5 separate regions of the Homo sapiens genome follow, and regions 2, 3, 4 and 5 are each linked to region 1. The links come from fine-mapping of genetic effects on gene expression. A gene starts in region 1. Each other region holds a variant in brackets. All regions are shown on one strand. Distances are between the middles of the regions. Region 1 holds the start of NFRKB (nuclear factor related to kappaB binding protein). Region 2 overlaps TMEM45B (transmembrane protein 45B). Region 3 overlaps LOC124902793 (a long non-coding RNA gene). Region 4 overlaps TMEM45B (transmembrane protein 45B). Region 5 overlaps TMEM45B (transmembrane protein 45B).

Region 1 (5,105 bases):
GAGGGTACAATAAGCCGTGATCACGCTACTGCACTCCAGCCTGGGCAACAGAGACCCTGTCTCAAAAAAAAAAAAAAAGGAAAGGAAAAAGAGAAAGAATATTGTTTGTTGTTCTTTCACAAAAGAAAATTTGCTGAAAATCAACATACACTAGTAAAATGCAAATGCTAACAGTCACTTTATGAGGGCCTATTAAAAGCCAGGCCTTTCACATATCTCATTTAATTCCTACAACTGTGCAAAGTAAGGTCATGGGTTATTACATCGGAATTAAAACTGAAAATCAGAGTAGGTCAGTAACTTGCCCAACCCCAGAGGCAGTACTGAAACTCAGGTCTACCTGCCTGCAAACCCATGTGCTTAATGCTACACACAATACCTCTTGTATAACCTCGCAACATTTAAATAATAAAAACGAACCTTACTGATATGACTTTATTAGTCCATATAAATTCCTGAGGTTCCACACACCTGACCATAACCACCAGTAAAGTCAATGGCCAATCTGCCTTTAGTTGGTCCATTTGATCCGTATAATCATGTAAATTAATGCTACTTTTCTCCTTCGTGTAATAACAGAACACTGCTGATCACCTTCAGAAAACTACATACCACAACATTTTCAGACTGATGGCTGGGATTAGGGGTCAAGTTGATAGCACAGGACTGCACAATGCTAACAGGACCACAGGGAGCTTAAACTCAATCACTCTACCAACATTTACTAAATCCATCCTTTCCAGCTCCTATTCCTACAAAGTGGGCTAAAAAGCATACTAAAATGAAAAGAAAAAAGGATGTTAACAGTCAAAACACCAGAATTCCATATTCCACATTCCACAAACACCACATTCCACAAATCTTACCACGCCAGGTGTCAATTTCCTTATTTGAGGAAGGGAAGCTGGACCAGGTCCTCCCTCCCGTTATTTCCAATTCTGGAATCCTGCAATGAATAATCTCTAGATGAGTGACAGTGTGAATTACGTAATACAGGTACTTTTCTTTTCCAAAATTCTCCAATGATAAAGAACAGTTCTAGAATAACTATATGTAAAATGAAGCATGTTCCACTAAATTATTTCAAGCTCCCTTGAAGAGATTTCAGATCCATGTAAAGATATAGCAGAAACTTAAGCGTTGAGTCAAGTCACGTGGGTGGTCCCCAAGCAACTGTGCCCCCTCATCACCCTTCAGCACATGGTGAAATGACATCCTCATCATGCCTATGCCTAAATAAGTGAAGCGGGTGAGACAGCACATAGCATGTGAGTTTAACAAAACTTCAAAATAGCACCAAAAAAAAATTGCAGAAGCAACCTGATGCTCAGAATAAAACCTTCTTAACAGAACTGGCATAGAACAGACTATCAACTGCAAAGTCAGTGTCCTACCTGCCTCTTAGGAGGTCTCTATACAACTTGCTCACAAGTTTCTTCAGTGACGGTGCGTGTCTAGCTAAAGTTAATCTAGTCCACTGACAACCTTTGCACTGCCACTATTCTGAACAGAATCTCAAAATACCAAAACCAGGCAGCTGCCAGGGAGTTGGACCCCGGAAGCCAAGGATTTCCAGATCTTCGGGCGTTCTGAACCTCTTCACTAGACCACGAAGGCCTCTCGGCCTCTCATCACTGGCTTTCAGCACCTGGTCTAACTTTCCCCGCTGGACCCTCCCCAACGCAGAAGCTAAACCCTCGGGTCCTTCCAGAGCAACCGCCGGCTCCAAAGCCCTCAACTCTGCAGCAAATTCCCCTCCGGTGCCAGCCCGGCTGGCCCAAGGCCCGGGTCCAATCCTCAGAACTGCACGGCTCGGCCCCGCCCCTCCCCCACGCCGTGCCTAACCCTAACCCCCAGCCTCACGCGTCGCACCGCTCCCCACGCCCCGCTCCCGCTCCCCACGCCCACACGGGCAGCGACCTCGCGGACCCAGCCGCCCGCTCCCGCTCCCTCCACTCCCAGGAGACACTTCAACCCTTTCGCCGCCCCTTGCCCGCCCTCACCTGAACCGCGGGCGCCGGCCCCCTAACCCGCAGCCCTTCTCCGGCCGCGGGCTCCCAGACGCACTCGCTCCCGCAAGGAGTCTGGGTGCGCGCACGCTCTGGGCCTGCGCGGCGGAAGGGGCGGGGCAGCGCGGGGCGGGGCCTGGAGGGTGCCGGGGCGGGGCCACAGCGGGCGGGTCCTGGAGCGGCTCGGGAGAGCGGAGGGTCGGCGAGGGTGCCTGCGCGCGGCTGGGCCTGGGGATGCAGGTTCCAGCCTGCTTGCGCGTCTCACCTGATTTAGGAGCTTCCAGAGGCCCCAGACAGTGCCTGTCTTTGCCTGACCGCGAATCAAAGTTCCATAGCCCGTGAGCGAAGGCACGTCTATTAGCTGACGTTTGCAGAGAGCATACCCTGCCCCAGGCCCTATGCTAAGCACTTTCTACCCACCGTCTTTGTGCTGCAGCCCTGTGAGCTATGCACTATTAGTGCCCATTTTACAGTTGAGGACATGAGTAGAACGCGACCTCAGCCTGTGCTTCCGAGTTCCTTCATTCCTCCTTCCCGTCCCCGGGCCCTCGATGTCCAGAAAGAATGTAAACACATCGAAGGATCACATTTTAAAGTTAAACTCCATCATTTTCCTCTTCTTAGATATGAAGGCCCCTTTCCTGTTATTCACTGGGTTTTGCTTAGTACGGCTTCACACTACTTATTCCAGGTACTCCCAGCAGTGGCGCAGAGACCATCCTCAGTTCTGTGTGTGGATGGGACCAGAGAAGCCGGCCGGCCGAGCTAATGTTCTTCCCTTCCTGGAAGAGAGTAGTTTCCAAACAACCCGATCTCTGTTCCTCTACTGGCTCCACATATGCTCTAAGTTCCTGTTACACTGTTGAGAGGCTCTTGAATTAGAAACTATCGAGTATAAATGGCAGTGGAATATCACTCTATAGTTGTCACCGATATTTCCCTTACCTTGAGATTGTGACAAGACCAGAAAGAGAAAAAGAGTAAAAACAATGTAAACTATAATTTTTGATAGACTTTGTTTTTTTAAAGTGGTTTAAAGTTAACAAAATTGAGCAGAAAGATATTTTCCAAATACTCCCCGCCCCACCTCCCCACATGCATCGCCTTCCCTTTATCAACATCCTCTACCAGAGTGGTACATTTCTTAGAACTGATGAACCCGGCCCGGCCTGGTGGCTCACGCCTGTAATCCCAACACTTTGGGAGGCCGAGGCGGGCGGATCCCGAGATCAGGAGATCGAGACCATCCTGGCCAACATGGTGAAACCGCGTCTCTACTAAAAATACAAAAATTCGCCGGTCGTGGTGGCGGGCACCTGTAGTCCCAGCTACTCGGGAGCTGAGGCAGGAGAATTGCTTGAACCGGGGAGGCGGAGGTTGCAGTGAGCCGAGATTGAGCCATTGCACTCCAGCCTGTCGACAGAGCGAGACAGAGCGAGACTCCATCTCAAACAAAAGAACTGATGAACCTACATTGATACATCATTACCCACCATCACAGTATAATGCAGAGTAATTTCACTGTCTTAAAAATCATCTGTGCTCTGCATATTCATCTCTCCCTCTCCTCTACCCCTGGCAACCGCTGATCTTTTTGTCTCCATAGTTTTGCCTTTTTCCAGAGTGTCATCTAGTTGGAATTACATAGTATGTAGCCGTTTCAGATTGGCTTCCTTCCCGTAGTAACAGGCATTGAAGTTTCCTCCATGTCTTTTCATGGCTTGATAGCTCCTATTTCTTTTTAGTGCTGAATAATATTCCATTGTGTCGATATATCACAGTTTTATCTATTCGCTTACTGAAAGATATCTTCATTGTTTCCAGGTTTTGGCAATTATGAATCAAGCAATTATGAATCAAACAACCCAGAAATCCAACCACCCACTCCAGGCATCTTTGCATGAACGTATCAAAAACACCTCAGTCCCAATGCCCAGGATCTTCCCCTTTGAGAGGCTGAGATGGGTGGATCACTTGAGCCCAGGAATTGGAGACCAGCCTGGGCAATATGGTGAAACCCCATCTCTACTAAAATAAATACAAAAAATTAGCCAGGTGTGGTGGCACGTGCCTGTAGTCCCAGCTACTCAGGAGACTGAGGTGGGAGAATCGCTTGAGCCAGGGAGATCGAAGCTGCCGTGAGCTGTGATTGCACCACTGCACTCCAGCCTGGGCAACAGAGTGAAACCCTGTCTCAAAAAAGTAAAAAGAAAAATAAAACAACAAAGAATAAGTAAGACTTTTCCTTTACCTTCATTATTAAAGGTAATAATGATGTTCTTTCTTTATATAGATCTGAGGTTCTGACTTTTATCATTTTTCTTCTCTCTGAAAAACTTAACATTCTCTCCAAGGCAGGTCTACTGGCAACAAATCCCCTTTGCTTTTGGGGGATAATTTCATGGGCTACAGCATTCTAGGTTAGACACTGCTTTTTTCTCTCAACACCTTAAACATTTCATTCCACTCGCTCCTTGTGTGCACAGTTTCTGAAGAAAAGTCATTTTTTGTTCATTTGTTTTTTGGTTTTGAAGGATTTTTTTGCATTTATCCTGTGTGTCCTCTGAGCTTCCCGGATCTGTGGTTTCATCTTCCATATTGATTTGGGGAAATAATCAATCATTATTGCTTCAAATATTTCTTCTGTTCCTTTCTCTGTCTTCTGCTAGTATTCCCATGAGGCATAGTTATACCTTTTTTTCATCATCTCACAGTTTTTGGATATTGTTTGTCTTTCAGTTATAGAGGTTTCTATTGAGATATCCTTAAGCTCAGCAATTCTTTCCTAAGATGTGTCTAGTCTACCATTTAGCCTCTCACAGCTACTCTTCATGTTTTTTTTTTTTTTTTTTTTTTTTTTGAGGTGGAGTCTTGCACTGTGACCCAGGCTGGAGTGCAGAGGCGCAATCTCAGCTCTCTGCAACCTCCACCACCCAGGTTCAAGCGATTCTCCCACTTCAGCCTCCTGAGTAGCTGGGATTACAGGCACCCACCACCACGCCTGGCTAATTTTTGTATTTTTAGTAGAAGCAGGGTTACACCGTGTTGGCCAGGCTGGTCTTGAACTCCTGACCTCAAATGATCCACCCACTTCAG
Region 2 (5,106 bases), 54 kb before region 1:
TTGTCCTTAGATTGAAAGGTTTTGTTGTATATTGCCCACACCAGTTGTGTATATTAGGAAACACATTCCTTAAGTACTTTTTTATTTAACATGTATTTTATTTAAATGTTTTTAATGCTAAACCACAGCAGGGGCTTAGCCTATATTTGGAAAATGGGTTATCCAAATTATTTAGAAGTCCAAATTTTTATTGTTCTACTTGAAGTTATTTATTACCTTATTCCTCCTGTAACTAAAACTAACTCATCCTCCATCTCCTCCACGTGTTCCATAATGTAGCTAATCTAATGAACTAATCCATTAATTTGTTATTGGAAGAAATATAGCCCATCCCCATCAAATCAAAGTACTCAGTCTTCTATGAATCATACATAAGTTTAAATAAATTTCTACAGACATGCTGCAGGCCCTGCTGTCCACTGGTGTGAATTTTAGACGAGGTAAAAGGGAAGGGTGGGTCTTGACAAGCTGGTATCAAGTACATAGAGGCAGACAAGGACTCTGCCTTTATTTCAGGTACTGCTTCTGAGAAAAATGAGGAAGTGCAGGGAGGAGGGAAGCCGGTTAGTCACTGTGCAGTTTTGACCTACATTTGCAAAGCTGGTTTTTCTGCACCTTTGCCTAGGAAAATGAAGTATAATAAGCTTGATATTGAAAGGGACCTGTGTTAAACATTAAACAAACATGTAAATTTTTTATGTTCAAAGGAGGGTTTAAAAAGAAAGCGGGCTGGGCACAGTGGCTCACGTCTGTAATCCCAGCATTTTGGGAGGCTGAGGCAGGTGGATCACTTGAGGTCAGGAGTTCTATATCAGCCTGACCAACATGGTGAAACCCTGTCTCTACTAAAAATACAAAAAAATTAGCTGGGCGTGGTGGTGCACGCCTGTAATCCCAGCTACTTGGGAGACTGAGGCAGGAGAATCGCTTGGAGGCAGAGGTTGCAGTGAGCCAAGATTGCACCATTGCACTCCAGCCTGGGCAACAAGAGCGAAACTCCATCTCAAAAAATAATAACGAGGAGAAGGCCTTCCAGTTATGGCAGCACAAAGAGGCAGGCAATTTCTTTCTGTAAAAAAAAAAAAAAAAAAAAAAAAGCAACAAACAACCAAAAAATATATAAAACTAGACAAAATTGTTTATCAAAACCAAGCATTTCAGGGAACTGGAAATTGACAAAATGCAGGCAAAAAATTGAGCAGCATTTATTCTTGAAAAACTACTAGATCTTCAGGCAAGTAGGAGATGGTGGCTTTTTTTGCCTGTGGCTGCTCCCATCACCCCCCAGCTCAGCCAATGACTTTTAAGTAAGATGGGGCTGGCCATGAAAACTGCCACACAAACAGATTCAATTCAGAGCAGTGGCTGGGGGGTTGAAAATCCTTGGCTTTGCTGGCTTAACATGGGAATGAACACTTGGAAATGAGCAGGACAAATCCACAGCTTCGCTAGCTTGAGGTTGCAGCCCCACTTGGGGCAAGCAGCAGGCCAACCAGGAATTTAACAGGGGGATTCTGGAAATGAGAATCAGAGAAGTATTGAAGTGAGCTCTTCACGCATCCCTGGCTGACTGAAAAAACTATGCATATATGGAGAAGACCTGAGAGAGCCCAGCAAGGGAGATAAGGGACTTGAAAACTGGCCTTCTCCAACCCCCACACAGAGGGACTGACAGGGGTTGGAAGTGTAATGGGCTTGAAGTTTTCTTTTGTTTTTTTGTTTTTTTTTTTTTTTTGGAGACAAGAGTCTCACTCTGTCGCCCGCCCAGGCTGGAGTGCAGTGACGTGATCTCAGCTCACTGCAACTTCTACCTCCTGGGTTCAAGTGATTCTCCTGCCTCAGCCTCCCAAGTTGCTGAGATTACAGGCACCCACTACCACGCCCGGCTAATTTTTTGTATTTTTAGTAGAGATGGGGTTTCGCCATGTTTGCCAGGCTAGTCTTGAACTCCTGACCTCAAGTGATCCACCCGCCTCGGCCTCCCAAAGTGCTGGGATTACAGGCATGAGCCACTGCGCCCGGCCTCAGAGAATTAAAGAAAACTGTTCAAGGAATTAAAAGAAAATATGATTTAAATGACT[C/T]GACAAATAGGGAATCTAAATAGAGAAATACAAACTGTAAAAAGAATTAAATGGAAATTCTGGAGTTGGAAGGTACAATTTCGAATTCACTAGATGGGCTCAATAGCAGATTTTGAGATAGTGGAAGAACTAGTGAACATGAAAATAGACCAATAGAAATGATCCAATTCGAAAAACAGAAAGAAAAATGAAGACAAATGAACAGACCTTCAGACACACATGGGATGATGCTCAATGTCCCCACATACGTGTAATGGAAGCCGCAGAAAGGGAGAGAGAAAAAAATAAAGAAGTAATAGCTGAAAGCTTCCCAGGTTTGATGAAAGATATTGAATTGCAGATTTTTTTTAAAACTCAACCAACACTGAATTTAAAAAACACAAAGAGAACCACACAGGAAGGACAAAGCCAGAAGCATCACACTTCCTGTGTTCAAATTATATTATAAAGCTATAGCAATCAAAACAATATAGTACTGGCATAAAAACACACATAGAGCAATGGAACAGAATTGAAAGCACAGAAATAAACCCACTCATATAAGGTTAACTAATCTTCTACAAGGTGTCAAGAACAAGAATGAGGAAAGAATAGTATCTTCAATAAATGGTGCTGGAAAAACTGGATATCCACATGCAAAAAAAAATAAGGAAATTGGATCTTTATCTTCCACCATATACAAAAATCAACTAAAGGTGGATGAAAGATTTAAATGTAAGACCTAAAATGGTAAAACTCCTAGAAGAAAATATGCAGGGAAAGATACATGACATTGGTGCTAGCGTTGATTTCTTTTTTGATATGACAACAAAAGCACAGGCAACAAAAGCAAAAGTAAAGGAGTAGGATTGCATCAAAGTAAAAAGCTTTTGCATAGCAAAGAAAACCATGAAGAGAGTAAAGATACCCATAGAATGGGAGAAAATATTTGCAAACCATATATGCAATAAGGAGCTAAATCCAAAATATACAAGAAACTCTTACTACTCAATAGTAAAAAACAAATAACCCTATTAAAAAGTAGGCAACAGGCTGAGTGCAGTGGTGCAATCTCGGCTCACTGTAACCTCCGCCTCTCAGGTTCAAGCGATTCTTCTGCCTCAGCCTCCCGAGTGGCTGGAACTACAGGCATGCGCCACCACGGCTGGCTAATTTTTTGTATTTTTGGTAGAGATGGAGTTTTGCCATGTTGGCCAGGCTGGTCTTGAATTCCTCACCTCAGGTGATCCGCCTGCCTCAGTCAGCCTCCCAAAGTGCTGGGATTACAGGCATGAGCCACTGTGCCCAGCCTATTTTAGACTTTTTGATTGCCCTATGATCTCAGTTCTCAAATGAGTTTAGGAAAAGTTATGATTTTGTAGTTTATCTGCTATCGTTGCTGTTAGGGTGTAATACTCATCCCAGCTTTCCGCATCCTGGATTCTTTGTGTTTTAATAATTGTTTACTATAATCTATTTCATATGTTCTAATGTATACAATGCCAATTGATGTTTGCTTTTATGTATTTGCAGTTTTGATTTCTTCTTTGACCCAAAGTTATTTAGTGACTTAAAAAATGTTTAAGGTGATTGAGATTTTTGTAAAAGAAAATATTTCTGTTGTTATAGCATTGTAGTCAAAGAATGTAGGCAATAAATTTTCTGCTTTGAGAAAAAAAAAAAAAAGTGGGCAAAGGACCTGCATAGACATTTCTCTAAAGAAGACATACAATGGCCAAGTGGTTTATGAAAAGATGCTCAACATCACTAATCGTCAGGGAAATGTAAATCAAAGTCACAATAAGATATTACCTTATACCTGTTGGGATGGCTGTTGCCAAAAAATCAAAACAAAAAACAAAACAAGATTGGTGTGGATGTGGATAAAGGGAACCTTTACATACTGTTGGTGGGAATGTGAATTGGTACATCTATTATGGAAAACAGTGTGGAGGTTTCTCAAAAAATTAAAAATAGAGCTACCCTATGATCCAGCAATTTCACTTCTGTGTATATATCGAAAGCAAATAAACTCCCTATCTTGAAAAGATATCTGCCCTCCCATGGTCACTGCAGCTTTGTTTGCAATAGCCAAGATATGGAAACAATCTAAGTGTTCACTGATTGATGAATGGACAAAAAAAATGTGGTGTATATATATATAGAATGGGATATTATTCAGCCTTAAAAAAGAAGGAAATCCTGCTATTTGCAACAACATGGATGAACCTTGAAGACCTTATACTAAGGGAAATAAGCCAGACACAGAAAAAATGCTGTGTGATCTCACTTATATGTGGAATCTAAAATAATCAAACTGGATATAAACAGAATAGAATACCTGTTACCAGGGTTCTGGAGCAGTGGGGGAAATGGGGAGATATTGGTCAAAGGGTACAAACTTGCAGTTATGAGTAAATTTTGGAGACCTAATGTACAGGAGGGTGACTATCATTAATAATAATATACTGGCCAGGCACAGTGGCTTATGTCTGTAATCGCAGCACCTTGGGAGTTTGAGGCGAGAGAATAGCCTGAACCCAAACATTCAAGACCAGCCTGGGCAACATAGCGAGACGTTGTCTCTACAAAAAATTTTTTAAATTGGCCAGGCGTGGTGGCCTGCACCTGTAGTCCTAACTACTTATGAGGCTGAGGCGGAGGATCACTTGAGCCCAAGAAGTTCAGGGCTGCAGTGAACTATGATTATGCCACTGCACTCCACCCTCGGTGATAGGGCGAGACCCTGTCTCTAAAAATAATAGTAATAATAATAAACCTTATATTTGACATTTGCTAAGAGAGTAGATCTTAAGGATTCTCATTACAAAGGAAAGGAAAGGGTACCAGGTAAGGTGATAACTCTGTTAATTAGCTTGATCATACCAATCATTTCACAATGTATACATATATCAAATCATCATGTTATATACCCTGAGTATATACAATTTTTATTTGTCAATTATACCGCAATAAAGCTGAAAAAATATTAAAGGACATCCTTCAGGTCGAAAGAAAATGAGGTTTTAGAGTTATTAAAATGGAC
Region 3 (5,106 bases), 100 kb before region 1:
AGATATTCTGCTTTGGTTAGGATATGGAATTAGCTATATATAACAAAAACCTCAAGTAACTGTGACTTACATAGATATAATTTTATTTATCTTTCCACCTAACAGTCTGGAGGTGGTCATTCCAGGTGGGCACTAGTGGACACTAGTTTAGTAGTCTACGCTAGTAGGAAACCACTGTGTGAAACTATCCAAGAATCTAGCTTCCTCTTGCCCTAACATTGGTCTAAGATGACCCATTACCATCTTCCAGGCAGCAGGAGAGGGGAAAGGGAGAAGATGGGCACACTCTCTTCTTTTCAGGACACCCCTCGGAGGTTGCCTGTATCATTTCCACTCACAGCCCATTGGCCTGAACTTAGTCACATAATTCCGCCTATCTAAAAGGAAGGCTGGTGTGTTAGTCCGTTCTCAAACTGCTATAAAGAACTACCTGAGACTGGGTAATATATAAAGAAAAGAGGTTTAATCAACTCACAGTTCCACAGACTATATGGGAGGCATGACTGGGGAGGCCTCATGAAACTTACAATAATGGAAGAAGGGCAAGAGGGAAGCAGCAAAATCTTCACATGATGGCAGGAGAGAGAGAGCAAAGGGGGAAGTGCCACACACTTTTAAACAACCAGAGGCCTCATGAGAGCTCATTCACTGTCACAAGAACAGCAAGGGAGAAATTTGCCACCATGATCCAATCACCCCCCACCAGCCCCCTCCTGCAACACTAGGGATTACAATTCAGCATGAGATTTGGGTGGGAACACAAAGCAAAACCATATTTTTCCACCCCAACCCCTCCCAAATCTCATGTCCTTGTCACATTTCAAAATCAATCATGCCTTCCCATCAGTCCCCACAAGTCCAAAGTCTTATCTGAGACAAGGCAAGTCCCTTCCACCTATGAGCCTGTAAAATCAAAAATGAGTTCATTACTTCCAAGATACAATGGGGATACAGTCATTGGGTAAGTGCTCCTGCTCCAAAAGATAGAAATTGGCCAAAACAAAGGAGCTACAGGTCCCATGCAAGTCCAAAACCCAGCAGAGAAGTCATTAAATTTTAGAGCTCCAAAATAATCTCCTTTGACTCCATGTCTCACATCCAGGGCACACTAATGCAAGGGGTGGGCTCCCAAGGCCTTAGGCAGCTATGCTCATGTAACTCTGCAGGGCTCAGCTCCCACAGTTGCTCTCAAGAGTTGGCATTGAGTAGGCCTGTGGCTTTTCCAGGCACACAGTGCAAGCTGTTGGTGGATCTACCATTCTGGGATCTGGAGGACGGTGGCCATCTTCTCACAGCTCCACTAGGCAGTGCCCCAGTGGGGAAACAGTGTGGGAGCTCCAACTCCACATTTTCCTTCTGCACTGCCCTAGTAGAGGTTCTCCATGAAGACGCTGCCCCTGCAGCAGACTTCTGTCTGGATATCCAGGCATTTCTATACATCCTCTGAAATCTAGGCAGAGGCTCTCAAACCTCAACTCTTGCCTTCTGTGCACCTGGAAGCCCAATGCCACACAGAAGCCACCAAGGCTTGGGGCTTGCACCCTCTAAAGCAATGGCCCATGCTATACTTTGGACCCTTTAGCCAAGGCTGGAGCTGGAGTGGCTGGGACACAGGGCGTCATGTCCCAAGGCTGCACAGAGCAGTGGGGCCCTGGACCTGGTGCACAAAACCATTTTTCCCTCCTAGGCCTCCAGGCCTGTGATGGGAGGGGCTGCCATGAAGGTCTCTGAAGTGCCCTGGAGGCACTTTCCCCGTTGTCTTGGCTATTAACATTTGGCTTCTCTTTACTTATGCACATTTCTGCAGCAGGCTTGAATTTCTCCCAAGAAAATGGGTTTTTCTTTCCTACAACATGGTCAGGCTGAAAATTTTCCAAACTTTTATGCTCTGCTTCTCTTTTAAATATGCTCTGCTTCTCTTCTCATTTGCTTATGCAAATGAACATAGGCTTTTAGAAGCAGCCAGACCACCTCTTGAATGCTTTGATGCTTATTAATTTCTTTCAGCAGATACCCTAAATCATCTCAAGTTCACAGTTCCACAGATCCTTAGAGCAAGGGCACAATGCTGC[C/T]AGTCTCTTTCTAAAGCATAGCAACAGTGACCTTTGCTTCACTTCCCAGTAAGTCCCTCATCTCCATCAGAGACCATCTCAGCCTGGACTTCGTTGTCCATATAACTATCAGCATTGTGGTCAAAACCAATCAACAAGTCTCTAAGAAGTTCCAAACTTTCCCTCATCTTCCTGTCTTCTTCTGAGCCCTCCAAAGTGTTCCAATCTCTGTCTGTTACCCAGTTTCAAAATTGCTTCCACATTTTCAGGTATCTTTATAATAATGCCCCAATTCTCCTGGTATGAGTTTTCTGTGTTAGTCAGTTCTCACACAGCTATAAAGAACTACCTCAGACTAGGTAATTTATAAAGAAAAGAGTTTTAATAGACTCACAGTTCCACAGGCTATACAGGAGGCATGGTTCGGGAGGCCTCAGGAAGCTTACAATCATGGCAGAAGGGTGGAGGATAAATGAGCATGTCTTCGCATTGCGGCAGGAGAGAGAGAGCAAAGGGAGAAGTGCTGCACACTTTTAAACAACCAGATTTCGTGGGAACTCACTCATGATCATGGGAACAGCAGTGGGAAATCTGCCTCATGAGCCAATCACCTCCCACCAGGTCCCTCCCCCAAGACTGAGGATTACAGTTCAACATGAGATTTGGCTGGGGACACAGAGCCAAACCATATTAGCTGGAAAAAATAATAATACTTATTCTGGATGGCTAGCACCAGGATGGCCAAGGAGAGATTAGATAATGAGAAACTCTATGATAAGATCTTCCAAAATAATAGTCAATTATACTAGCAACACATAAACCACTTCCCATTGAATTAAAATGCCATCCTTGCCTTTGCTAAGTTCCACATATAATTACATTCATTTAAGAACACTAATTTTTCTTGCAATATTGGTCACTGCAAGGAAAATCTGTGTGTTTTTGCTTTGTAAGATTTGTGTGTTTTTGCTTTGCAAGCCCAGCACTAGGTTTTGGGAAATGACTGTATTGTGAAAGGAAATCAGAATTCTTTCTGAGCCTCTTTCATTGTCCCTAATATAATGACTTCCAGAAAATTGTGTATCTGGAATCAAAGAGATTTAACAGCAAGACTCCAGGTTTTCAAAATATAATCGCTTTTTAAATGCTCATGTTTTAAAATGTTCAGTTCTTTGGATTAAATGTTCAGTTCTTTGGATGAAAGATGCTATATTCCCTCGGTGTAAATGAATAAAAAGATTATAAAAAGAAACCCACTAATCTGTCCCACTATTATACTAAAACAACTTGGTAATAATTAACTGGTATTATTGTATTATTCTATAATTGATTATTAGTAATTTACCTTTTAACTACTTGATTGAAGATTAACTTGACCTGTAAAACGAACCTAAACAGTCAGACTTACTTTTTCAAAACTGGTTTGTCACCCAGGTGCAGTGGCTCACACCTATAATGCCAGCACTTAGGGAGGCCAAGGCAGAAGGATCAATTCAGTTCAGGAGTTTGAGACCATCCTGGGCAACATAGGGAGACCTCATCTCTATTTAAAAAAAAAAATTAAAATCAGGGAAAATGGAAGCTAGGAGACAGAGCTAATGTGCAGCTCCCACATGGATGGACAGAACAGCATGTGGAGACTCACACCATGATCTTTTGCTCTAAGAACCATGGCAGGAACATACCAGGAAAAGCGAAAAAATTCACAGAGCCTTTGAAAGAAGCAGCACGCCAATGCAAATTTCATGAAACAGGCAAAAAAACTGTGAGTTCCCAAAGTGTGAGAAAGGGAAAACTTACCTCTGAATACACATCCCCACTGGGGAATCCGAAAATCCAGATCACAGGAGAAGAATTTAACCTTACCTAGAGATTAAATGGATTTAGGGATTCACACAAAGTAGAAAAGTAGAAGTAGCATTGGGAAGTGCCTTGGATGTACTCCAAGTCTCCAGCTCAACCCCAGGGAAGCCATCCCTGAGTATATCTTACAGAGGCCCTCAAGGAAGGCAGCCAGTGGAATTGGGGAAGGGCCACAGGGTGAAGAAACCTCCCAAGTGAAATTGGTAGTGGTTTCAACTGGGCACAAATTTTCTTGAGTGGAGTCCAGGTGATGAGTGGGAGGTGTTGTGGATACAAGGTGCTGCCAATGAAGTAGGCAGATGGAGAGAGGCGAGGTCTGAAAGCCGTGCTTGCTTTCTCAGTGGGGTAAGCTCACAGCCTGGGGCAAGGTCTGAATGGTCCACTGCAGAAGAGAGGCTGGCCTGACCAATGGTGTGGGAGCTGGGTCAGGCCTCTTGCTACCAGCTATCTCCTACTACCCTGGCAAACTATATGATACAGTGGAGGTAGCCAAAATCCTCTTGGGAACATAACCCCATTGGCCTGAGAACTATCCTCCATCACTCACAGTGGCTGCAGCAAGCCCCACCCAAGGAGAATCTGAGCCTAGACCCTCTTAACTCTGCCCCAACCTGATGGTATTTTCCTACTTGCCCTGGTAGTTGAACACAAAACTCAGAAACTCTTGGGAGCTTTATGGCCCTGCCAATCACCTGAGTATCCAAAATACTTACCCTGACCATCTTAGGGCAAGCTTAGAGCCCCCTACGACTACTGCAGCTGGTGCTCTCTTGAAAGCACCATCTCCTGGCTAGAGGCCAACCAACTCAGGCCACCACAGTAACTCATGACAGAATAACCCTGATCCCAGGAAGGAAAAGACAACACCTAATTCCACTTCCTGAAACATCCTGGCTAACCAAAGGTCCTGTGTGTGTTCATGTGACAACTTTACCACTAGTGTAACCAGCATTACAGAAAGCCAGCACACTAAACATATCTACAACCAAGGACTTTCATAGAGTCTACCTCACTCCCCTGCCACCTCCACCAGAGAAGGTGCTGCGATCCAAGGATGGGAGACCTGAAGAAAGACCACATCACAGAACTCTGCAGACATTCCCCAGCACCAGCACATAGCCTGGTAGCTCCACTGGGTGGCTAGGCCTAGAAGAGCAGTAAGAATCACTATAGTCCAGCTCTTAGGAAGCCC
Region 4 (5,106 bases), 61 kb before region 1:
ACGGGAATGACCATCAATTTGTATGGGATTTCGTGGGGGGTTGGTAAAAGCATTTTAAAATTGAATAGTTGTAATTTTTTTATAAAATTAGATAGCAATAATGGTTGCACAGCTGTTAGTAAACCAAAAAATACCAAATTAAACACCTTAAAAGGGTAAATTTTACGGTACGTAAATTATATGTCATTAGGAGTGGGTTTCTTTTTAAGTAGAAGAGTAATGGCAAGAAAGTACAGAGAACCATCTTAGGGTGACTTTCAGAGCCATCAGGAAAAACTGTCACAGAAATAAAAAGTAAAAAAACTTAGTAAGGTTGAAATCTTTGTAGCTTGTTATACACCTGAGAGTTATTTTTCGTATTGATTTAGTAATTAAATCTATGAAAGGAAATGTAAGTGTTAATTGGCCGGGCCTGGTGGCTCACACCTGTAATCCCAGCACTTTGGGAGGCCGAGGCAGGCGGATCACCTGAGGTCAGGAGTTCGAGACCAGCCTGGCCAACATGGTGAAACCCCATCTCTACTAAAAATGCAAAAATTACCCGGTTGTGGTGGCGCACCTGTAGTCCCAGCTACTTGGGAGGCTGAGGCTGGAGAGTTGCTTGAACCCGAGAGGTGGAGGCTGCAGTGAGTTGAGGTTGTGCCACTGCACCCCAGCCTGGGCGACAGAGGGAGACTCTGTCTCAAAAAATAAACAGAAAAATAAAAAAAAAAAAAGGAAATGTAAGTGTGAATTGATGAATGGATAAATAACATATGGCGTTATGGGCAGAATTTTGTCCCCCCACCTCCAAGTGTATATGTTGAAGTCCTCACCTCCAGTGCCTCAGAATATGCCTGTGTTTGGAGACAGGATCTTTAAAGAAGTAATCAAGTTAAAATGAGGTCATTAGGACAGTAATCCAATATGACTGGTATCCTTATAAGAGGAACTTTAGGGCCAGGCGCAGTGACTCACACCCGTAATCCCAGCACTTTGGGAGGCTGAGGCGGGTGGATCACCTGAGCTCAGGAGTTCCAGACCAGCCTGGCCAACATGGTGAAACCTCGTCTCTACTAAAAATACAAAAATTAGCCAGGCATGGTGGCGGACACCTGTAATCCCAGCTACTCAGGAGGCTGAGGCAGGAGAATCACTTGAACCCAGAAGGCGGAGGTTGCAGTGAGCCGAGATTGTGCCACTGCACTCCAGCCTGGGCAACAAGAGCAAACCTGTGTCTGAAATAAAAAAGGAACTTTAGACACAGACACACACCGAAAGAAGACCATTTGAAGAAATAGGGCAAAGGCGGTCATCTGCAAGCCCAGGAGAGACACCTCAGAAGAAACCCATTCTGCCAATGCATTGGTCTCAGACTTCTAGCTTCCAGAACTGTTAGAAGATAAATGGCTGTGGTTTAAGTCCCCTAGTCTGTGGGACTTTGTTACAGCAGCCCTGGCAACCAGTACAGATTTGGGTACCAAGAAATAGCGTGCTGTTGAGCAGACGTGGCTTTGGAACTAAACAGTGAGTAAGGGCTGGAAGAGTTTGGAGGTGCATGTTGGAAAAGGCCTAAATTGCCTTAAAGAGACTGTTGATAGAAATGTGGACATTAGCCGGGCGCGGTGGCTCACGCCTGTAATCCCAGCACTTTGGGAGGCTGAGGCAGGCGGATCACTTGAGGTCAGGAGTTCGAGACCAGCCTGGCCAACATGGTGAAACCCCATCTCTACTAAAAATACAAAAATTATCCAGGCGTGGTGGCGTGCGCCTGTAATCCCAGATACTCAGGAGGCTGAGGCAGAAGAATTGCCTGAACCTGAAAGGCAGAAATTGCAGTGAGCTGAGATCACGCCACTGCACTCCAGCCTCGGCAATAGAGCGAGACTCAGTCTCAAAGGAAAAAAAAAAACAGCAACAGAAATGTGGACATTGAAGGTGATTCCAGTGAGGACTGAGAAAGAAAAAACAGAGCTGTAGAGAAAGCATCTATCAGCTGGGCACCATGGCTCACGCCGGTAGTCCCAGCAGTTTGGGAGGCCAAGACATGTGGATCACCTGAGGTCAGGAGTTTGAGACCAGCCTGGCCAACATGGTGAAACCCCATCTCTACTAAAAATACAAAAATTAGCCAGGTGTGGTGGCATGCACCTGTAGTCCCGGCTACTCGGGGAGCTGAGGCAGGATAATTGCTTGAGCCTGGGAGGCAGAGGTTGCAGTGAGCCAAGATCATGCCACTGCACTCCAGCCTGGGTGACAGAGAGAGACTCCATCTCCA[CAAA/C]AAAAAAAAAAAAAAGAGAGAGAAACATCTGTCATCTTAGAGAATACATGTATCATCAGGAACAGCATGTTGGCTGAAATATGAATGTTAAACGTACTTCTGGTGAGATCTTGGACAGAAATGAGGAACATGATATTAGAAACTAGAAGAAAGATAGACCTTGTTATAAAGTGGCAAAGAAATTTGTTGAATTGGATTCTCATGTTTCATGGAAAGCAGAACTTATAAATGATGAACTTGGATATTTAGCTGAGGAGATTTCTAAGCAAAGTACTGAAGGTGGCCTGATTTCTTCTTGCTGCTCATAGTAAAATATGAGAGGAGAGAGACAAGCTAAAAAAGGAATTTTTAGAAAAAAAGGAACCAAAACTTGAAGATTTGGAAAATTCTCCATCTATCCATTCTACAAAAAGTGTGAAAGCACATTCTGGAGAAAAGACCAAGGGTGTGGCTGAACCCCTGTCTGAAAAGATGGCCAATGTGATGCATGGATACAGTCAACCAACTCAGCAAGTCGGGAACAGAGATGTGGTTTTCCCAGGAACATCTGTGGAGGGCCCTCTTGTCAAATGGCCTCACCCCCTGTGGATTGCATAGGAGGCCAAGGTTTTTGAGAATTTATACCAGCAGACATTGCCAGTTTGGACCAAAGGAGACAGAAATAGGAAGAAATGAAGGAAGATTGTCAGATTTCTGGAATTCTGCAGGACCAGCCAGTACAGCGATATGGCTGTGATCATGAGTTATCCTTAAAGGAAAGGGAAGAATGACTCTGAAGCCAGTTCAGAGATCTGCCAGGCTGCTACTGCCACCTTGGGCCCAGGCACACAGATTCAGGGGCAGGTCTGGTGCCACTTCCTTGGTTTCAGCAGGCCAGGATGCCCCAGCCCAGGACCAAGGGGTGGGGCCAGCATTTAGGGTAGAGGAATCAGGGTGATGGCCCTGGAAGGCAGGGCCACCCTGTGGACCCAGACAACAGAACACTGAGCCAAAGAGGATTATTCTCAAGCCTTGGCATTGGGCTGGGCGCAGTGGCTCACGCCTGTAATCCCAACACTTTGGGAAGCTGAGGCAGGTGGATGACCTGAGATCAGGAGTTGGAGACCAGCCTGGGCAACATGGTGAAATCCCGTCTCTACTAAAAATACAAAAAATAGCCTTGCATGGTGGCTCATGCCTGTAATCCTAGCTACTTGGGAGACTGAGGCAGGAGAATCACTTGAAGCCAGGAGGCAGAGGGTGGAGTGAGCCAAAACCGCGCCATTGCACTCCAGCCTGGGCGACAAGGGTGAAACTCCATTTCAAATTAAAAAAAAAAAAATTGAACGGAATTTGCCCTACCAGGTTCCAGGACAGGAGATCCATGACCACTTTCTTCTTTCCAATGTCCCACTTTTAAACTAGAAATGTCTATGCTCTGCCTGTCCTGTTTGGGAAGCAGATAATTTCTTGTCTGGTCGTAAAGGTTCACAGCTGGAGAATTTTGCCTCAGGATGAACCATACCTCAAATCTCACCCATACCTGGTTTAGACGATACTTACATGAGATTTGGGACTTAACAGTTGATGCTGATCTGGGTTAAGACTTTTGGCACTGTAGGGATGGGGATAAGTGTATTTTGCATATGAGAAGGATATGGATTTTCAGGGAGCAGAGGACAGGGTGTTATGGGCTGAGTGTGCTCTCTCCAAATTCAAATGTTGAAGTCTTATCTCCCAGTACCTCAGGATGTGACTCTTTTGAGATAAGATCTTTAAAGAAGTAATTAAATTAAAATGAGATCATTAGGGTGGGGCCCAAATGCAGTATGAGTAATGTCCTTATAAGAACACAGACACACACAAGAGGACGACCATGTGAGGACACTGAGAGAAGATGGCCATCTCCAAGCCAAGGAGAGAGGCCTCCAGAACTGAGAATATAAATGGTTGTTTAATCTGCCCAGTGTGTGGTACTGTGTTACCAGCCCTAGCAACCAGTGTATGTGGTCTACCCACACAATGAAATACCATTCAGCCATCAAAAGGACTCAGTGGTGATTCATGCTTACAACATGGAGAAACCTGGGAAACATCGTGCCAACAGAAAGGGCCAGTCACAAAAGGCCACATATTATATAATTCAATTTATGAATTGAAAGGCAAACCTGTAGAAATATAAAATCGACTGGTGGCTGCCTGCTGGACACCCCGCAATGTGCAGGACGGCCCCACAACCAAGACCCCTGTGGCCCAGAGTCTCAGCAATGCCGAGGCTGTGAGATCCTGCTCTCGCCCAGGCCTGCTTCCCAAAGCCCTTTAGTCCTGAAGGGAGAAGAGAACAGGCTGCCTTCTTTCTTTGTTATTGAAATCCCACTTACTCCCTCTTACAGCATGCTCTTCTCCCTTTAAGACCAGCCCGGGCTGGTCTCTACCACGTGTAGATAGGGCTGGGGAAGGAGAAGACTGGTGAGAGTGAGGGGTTTCTTTTTTTTCTTTTTTTTGTTTTGAGACGGAGTCTTGCTCTGTCTCTCAGGCTGAAGTGCAGTGGCGCCATCTCAGCTCACTGCAACCTCTGCCTCCCGGGTTCAAGAGATTCTCCTGCCTCAGCCTCCTGAGTAGCTGGGATTACAGGTGCCCACGACCATGCCCGGCTAATTTTTGTATTTTTAGTAAGAGACAGGGTTTCACTATGTTGGCCAGGCTGGTCTTGAACTCTTGACCTCAGGCAATCTGCCCGCCTCGGCCTCCCAAAGTGCTGGAATTACAGGCATGAGCCACTGCACTGGGCTTTTTTTTTTTTTTTGAGACAGGGTCTCCTCTGTTGCCCAGGCTGGAGTGCAGTGACATAATCATGGCTCACTGCA
Region 5 (5,106 bases), 71 kb before region 1:
TTTTTTTTTTTTTTTTTGAGACAGAGTCTCACTCTGTGGCCCAGGCTGGAGTGCAGTGGCGCGATCTCAGCTCACTGCAAGCTCCGCCTCCCGAGTTCAAGCCATTCTCCTACCTCAGCCTCCTGAGTAGCTGGGATTACAGGCGCCCACCACCATGCCCAGCTAATTTTTGTATTTTTAGTAGAGACAGGGTTTCACCATGTTGGTCAGGCTGGTCTCGAACCCCTGACCTTGTGATCCACCCACCTCGGCCTCCCAAAGTGCTGGGATTACAGGCATGAGCCACCACACCCAGCCTGGGAAAATATTTTTCTAATATCTCTAGAATTTGGGACAGAATTTCTGTCCTTGAAGGTCACCCTCCAAATCCATGCAATTTTTCCCTTCTGCAGCCCCACAGTGATCATCAAAACTTGGAGCAGATTCATGTTTTTTATTTTTTTCCTGGGAAAGTTTTAGATCACGTGAAGGGAACAGATACTACGTTTGATAGGAATCGTTCCTGCTTTAGCTTCTTAAGGCCTCTCACTTGGAAAGCCTGCCCATTAGACCCTGATTTTTTGCTGTTAGCTTTTCCTTCTTAGGCGACTTCAACAAAGACTGCAAACTCCCTGACAGCACAGGCCCAGGCTTGTCACCCCTGCAACTCCATCTCCCAGAACAGTGCCTTATGCATAACAGGTACTTGATAAATGTTAGTTGACTTAAATTGACCCTATTATCTGTTTTAAACTAGCCCTTCCTACCTGTCCCCTTGCTATTTCCTCTGTTTCTGTTAAATCTTTTTATGTCACCACCTCTTGGATGATGCTACCTCATTCTCAAATCTGATGGTATGGAATAGCTATAAGAAAACAAACTTGAAAGATCTCTAACTACTAGGACTCTAAGTAGAATTTCCTGGATTGAAAACTCCCCATATCACCCTACTAAATATCTAATTATTTCTTAGGTTATCACCAACCACCCTGCATCGAGTCCCTCCTGAGCCACAGTTCAGTTTGGATTATTTTTTTCCTCATGTTCCATCCCTTGACTGTAGTGCCCTTCCCTTCCTTCCAGTGTCTTTGATCGGCCTGCACTTTGATCCAGAGCTTCTCTTTGATCTGTTCTAATGGTCATTTTTCTGCCTCCTCCCCTACATTGATCTACAATCTGGCATATTTTATACATTATACAAAGCTCATTGTTGTGCTCATTTCAGAATACCTACCTGTCAATCACACAGACATCTTTTCAAACCTAACTCAGACCCACAATGAAAGTCCCTCTCTTCTGGCCATTACTGAGATAGCTCCTGCTTCGGTCTCACTGGGGCTGTTTATTTCTCTATGGGAGGCTCTAGAACAGTAACTAAACTACAGTGCAAAACAGTGATCTATAGATTACTGTTTCTCAATCGTCAGCACTAACAATAGAGTCTAAACTCCCAGGGACCTGGAGACTTGTCTGAGAACAGCCTGGCATAAGTGCAGTCTCTCTTAATACTAAAAAATATATGCTACCCCACAATATGTCTGTATCTGTTTTAAAATGAAAATCATTTTTCCAGAATCTTTAGGTGAAATTGATACTCCAGGATTATGTTCGTCTTGTGATTTCAGATATCATCTGGGGGGAAAGGATTCACACATATGCCAGTCTGTGAGACACAGTAGTAGAAATCAAGGGACTTACCTAGCTCTAAGAATTGTATGAAAATAGTAACGGTACCAACAATTTTACCAATGGCTAGATTTAGGAGATGGTGTTCTCTTGATTCAAGATGAAGGCTAAGCTGCATCAGTTCAGTTCAGTTTAAGAACTATTATTATGTATCAAGCTTGTGCTAGTTTTTGATGGAGATGATAAGGTCTCCACTCTTGAAGATTCTGTAGACTAATGGGCAAGACATATGTCACTATATAATTTTAATATAACATGGTAAGTGATAAAAAATCATGGTATGTATGAGGTCCTTTGAAAACACAGAGGTGAGGCGCTTAGCCCAGCCTGGAGATTCACAGAGGCTTCCTGGAGGAAATAAGGCCTAAATATGGAAACCAAGTAAGAGGAATGAAAAGGACGTGCAATTTAGAGGGGACAACATGAGCAAAGGGGACACTGTCAGGTTCATGGTGGGGAGAATTGGGAGGTGACACTGGAGAGGAGCCACATTCAGGTATACCCAATGCAAGGGGACGTGGACCCCTCCACAGGCTGCTGGTTAGCCAATGGAACATTTTCCATCCTCCAGTAGTGTAGTCAGATGTACACGGAAGGTGGATGACTGGCTGCGGGGTGGAAGAAGAATTCATGGACAGCAGGACTAGAGGCCTCGC[A/G]GTGTTTAGGAAAAAGACAATGAGAGACCAAATGAGATCATTGCTGCAGGCACAGAAGGGAAAGAGAAAATACCAGGATACTTGGGGAAGCGAATTTAGCAGAATTTTGATGTCTTTGGGGGCAATGGTGAGGGGAGAAGAGAGTCCAGAATGACTCCCAAGATTCTGGCTTTCTGGGTGACTGGACATTAAGCCATTAACTAAGTTTGGGATATGAGAAGAGAAGCCGATTTGGTGGGGAAAGAAGATGGTGAGTTCAGTCTTGGAAATACTGACTTGAGGTGTCTAAGAAACATCTATACGTTTATGTGCATGTCTGTCTGTTCAGCAGGTTGTTGGATCTATGAGTCTGAGACTTAGAGACAAGGCCAGAGCTGGAGATGAAGTTGTGGGAGTCACCATTGTGCAAGTGGTGATTAATCCATGGGTGTGCGTGAGAGTTCTTGCAAGGGGAAGAGGAAACGGAAGTAAGGGCTTATGCAAGGAGGACTGTTGAGTAAAGTGGAAGGCCCAGCCTCTGCCTGCTCACTAATGTCAGTGCTGAACAAGCCCACTGGTAGTGGATGCTGAGGGAAGGAAGGAAGGAGTCTGTCTGTAAGCTTGAGCACTTTTTCCAAGAGGTGGAGAAGGCAGAGAGCCCAAGCCTTGAAGAAATGTTCCTTAGTGGCCTGGCATCTTGGAAATTTGACTCCATGACTTTGGAGAGATCTTTCCATTATTATTTTCCTTGAGCGCCCAGAAAGAGAATTCTGAACTAAATGTATTCTTTCCCATGGCTGAGTTAAGGATAGTGTTAATTACAGAAATATATGTAAGGTTTTTTTTGGTTTTTTTTTTTGGTTGTTTGAAAACTAAACCCACCTTTGAAGTCCAGAGATGTCCTTTCACTCTAATGTATGCTGAGGTGGCAACTGGTAACTGCTTCTTTGTAGGTAATAGCCATAGCCTTAGTTTCATCCTCCCTTCTCCATGACCAAAACTTGCTCCAACTTCTGCATTTCGTTTTTGTGATGTATTAATGAGGAGCAAAGACATAAAGGAATTTCAGAATTCAGAAGAGCCATGGAGAGTCCCTCTTCCAAACTCCCTATTTAACAAATAAAGAGGCCGGGCGCGGTGGCTCACGCCTGTAATCCCAGCACTTTGGGAGGCCGAGGCGGGCGGATCACGAGGTCAGGAGATCGAGACCATCCTGGCTAACACAGTGAAACCGTGTGCCTACTAAAAATACAAAAAATTAGCTGGGCGTGGTGGCGGGTGCCTGTAGTCCCAGCTAATCGGGAGGCTGAGGCAGGAGAATGGTGTGAACCCGGGAGGCAGAGCTTGCAGTGAGCCGAGATGGCGCCACTGCACTCCAGCCTGGGGGACACAGCAAGACTCTGTCACAAAAAAAAAAAAAAAAAAAAGGACCCTGAGAGGCTATGTGTCTTGCTCAAGGTCACAGAGTGAATTCCTAGCAGCATTCAGGCTAGGACCCAAGTATTCTGACTCAGTGGCCAGTGTTCTTGTTAGATAGTGAGAAAATAGAATTTAGTCCAATTTGTTTTTCTTTTTTTTTTTTTTGAGACGGAGTCTCGATCTGTCACCCAGGCTGGAATGCAGTGGCGCGATCTCGGCTCACTGCAAGCTCCACCTCCTGGGTTCACGCCATTCTCCTGCCTCAGCCTCCCGAGTAGCTGGGACTACAGGCACCCACCACCATGCCCGGCTAATTTTTTGTATTTTTAGTAGAGATGGGGTTTCACCGTGGTCTCGATTTCCTGACCTCGTGATCTGCTCGCCTCGACCTCCCAAAGTGTTGGGATTACAGGCGTGAGCCACCGTGCCCGGCCTCCAATTTATTTTTCATTCTCGAATTCAGGATCCAGCAAAACTGCCTAATTTTCATGACAGTTTGAAGAAAGGCCCAAATCAAATGCCTCCCGCTCTGTGAGGCCTGCCCAGTTTCTCAGGTGAGAGTTACCCACTTTGTGTGCTATGTGCTAGGACTGCTACCAGTACGTCCCAGGACAATCAGTCTTTCACAAGTATTGTCATGTGGTGCTTAACGACAGGGACATGTTCTGAGAAATGTGTCGTTAGGCGATTTTGTTGTGTGGACATCCTAGAGTGTACTTACACAAACCCAGATGGCATAGCCTACTACACATCTAGGCTATGCGGTGTATACTGTCAGTGCTGAGTATACGCACTGTTAGCAGATGCTGAAGGGAGTCTGTAGGTGTGAGCACTTTTTCCAAGAACTGACTTCAAACCTGTACAGCACATTACCGTACCACACACTGTAAGCAGTTATAGCACAGTGGTAAGTATGTGTGTATCTAAACACGGAAAACATGCATTAAACATATGGTATTATGGCCAGGCGCAGTGGCTCACACCTATAATCCCAGCACTTTGGGAGGCGGAGGCAGGCAGATCACGTGAGGTCGGGAGTTTGAGACCAGCCTGACCAACATGGAGAAACCCCGCCTCTACTAAAAATACAAAATTAGCCAGGCGTGGTGGTGCGTGCCTGTAATCCCAGCTACTCGAGAGGCTGAGACAGGAGAATAGCTTGAACTGGGAGGCGGAGGTTGCCATGAGCTGAGACTGCACCATTGCACTCTAGCCTGGGCAACAAGAGCGAAACTCTGCCTCAGAAATAAAATAAAATAATTAGCCGAGCGTGGTGGTGCACACCTGTGGTCCCAGCTACTCAGGAAGCTGAGGCAGGAGGATCACTTGAACCCTGGGGGCGGAGGTTGCAGTGAGTTGAGATCGTGCCACCGCCCTCCAGCCTGGG

The links.
Region 2: its variant is fine-mapped to the expression of NFRKB in whole blood (INTERVAL, PIP 0.95).
Region 3: its variant is fine-mapped to the expression of NFRKB in whole blood (TOPMed, PIP above 0.99).
Region 4: its variant is fine-mapped to the expression of NFRKB in whole blood (INTERVAL, PIP above 0.99).
Region 5: its variant is fine-mapped to the expression of NFRKB in whole blood (INTERVAL, PIP above 0.99).

What each region holds. Positions count from the first base shown.
Region 1 is chr11:129,893,493-129,898,597 of GRCh38, forward strand. It overlaps NFRKB (nuclear factor related to kappaB binding protein), which reads right to left and starts at 2,086. Exons shown (of 27, transcript NM_001143835.2): 1 at 2,004-2,086; 2 at 867-946. RefSeq lists a silencer at 1,803-2,242.
Region 2 is chr11:129,839,874-129,844,979 of GRCh38, forward strand. All of the region lies in intron 1 of TMEM45B (transmembrane protein 45B), which reads left to right. Among named protein-coding and RNA genes, the nearest start is that of TMEM45B, 27 kb to the left of the region's middle. The variant C/T (reference allele first, on the strand shown) is at 2,082.
Region 3 is chr11:129,793,616-129,798,721 of GRCh38, forward strand. All of the region lies in intron 1 of LOC124902793 (a long non-coding RNA gene), which reads right to left. Among named protein-coding and RNA genes, the nearest start is that of TMEM45B, 20 kb to the right of the region's middle. The variant C/T (reference allele first, on the strand shown) is at 2,073.
Region 4 is chr11:129,832,556-129,837,661 of GRCh38, forward strand. All of the region lies in intron 1 of TMEM45B (transmembrane protein 45B), which reads left to right. Among named protein-coding and RNA genes, the nearest start is that of TMEM45B, 19 kb to the left of the region's middle. The variant CAAA/C (reference allele first, on the strand shown) is at 2,258.
Region 5 is chr11:129,822,842-129,827,947 of GRCh38, forward strand. The region is part of intron 1 of TMEM45B (transmembrane protein 45B); the gene reads left to right. Among named protein-coding and RNA genes, the nearest start is that of TMEM45B, 9.5 kb to the left of the region's middle. The variant A/G (reference allele first, on the strand shown) is at 2,322.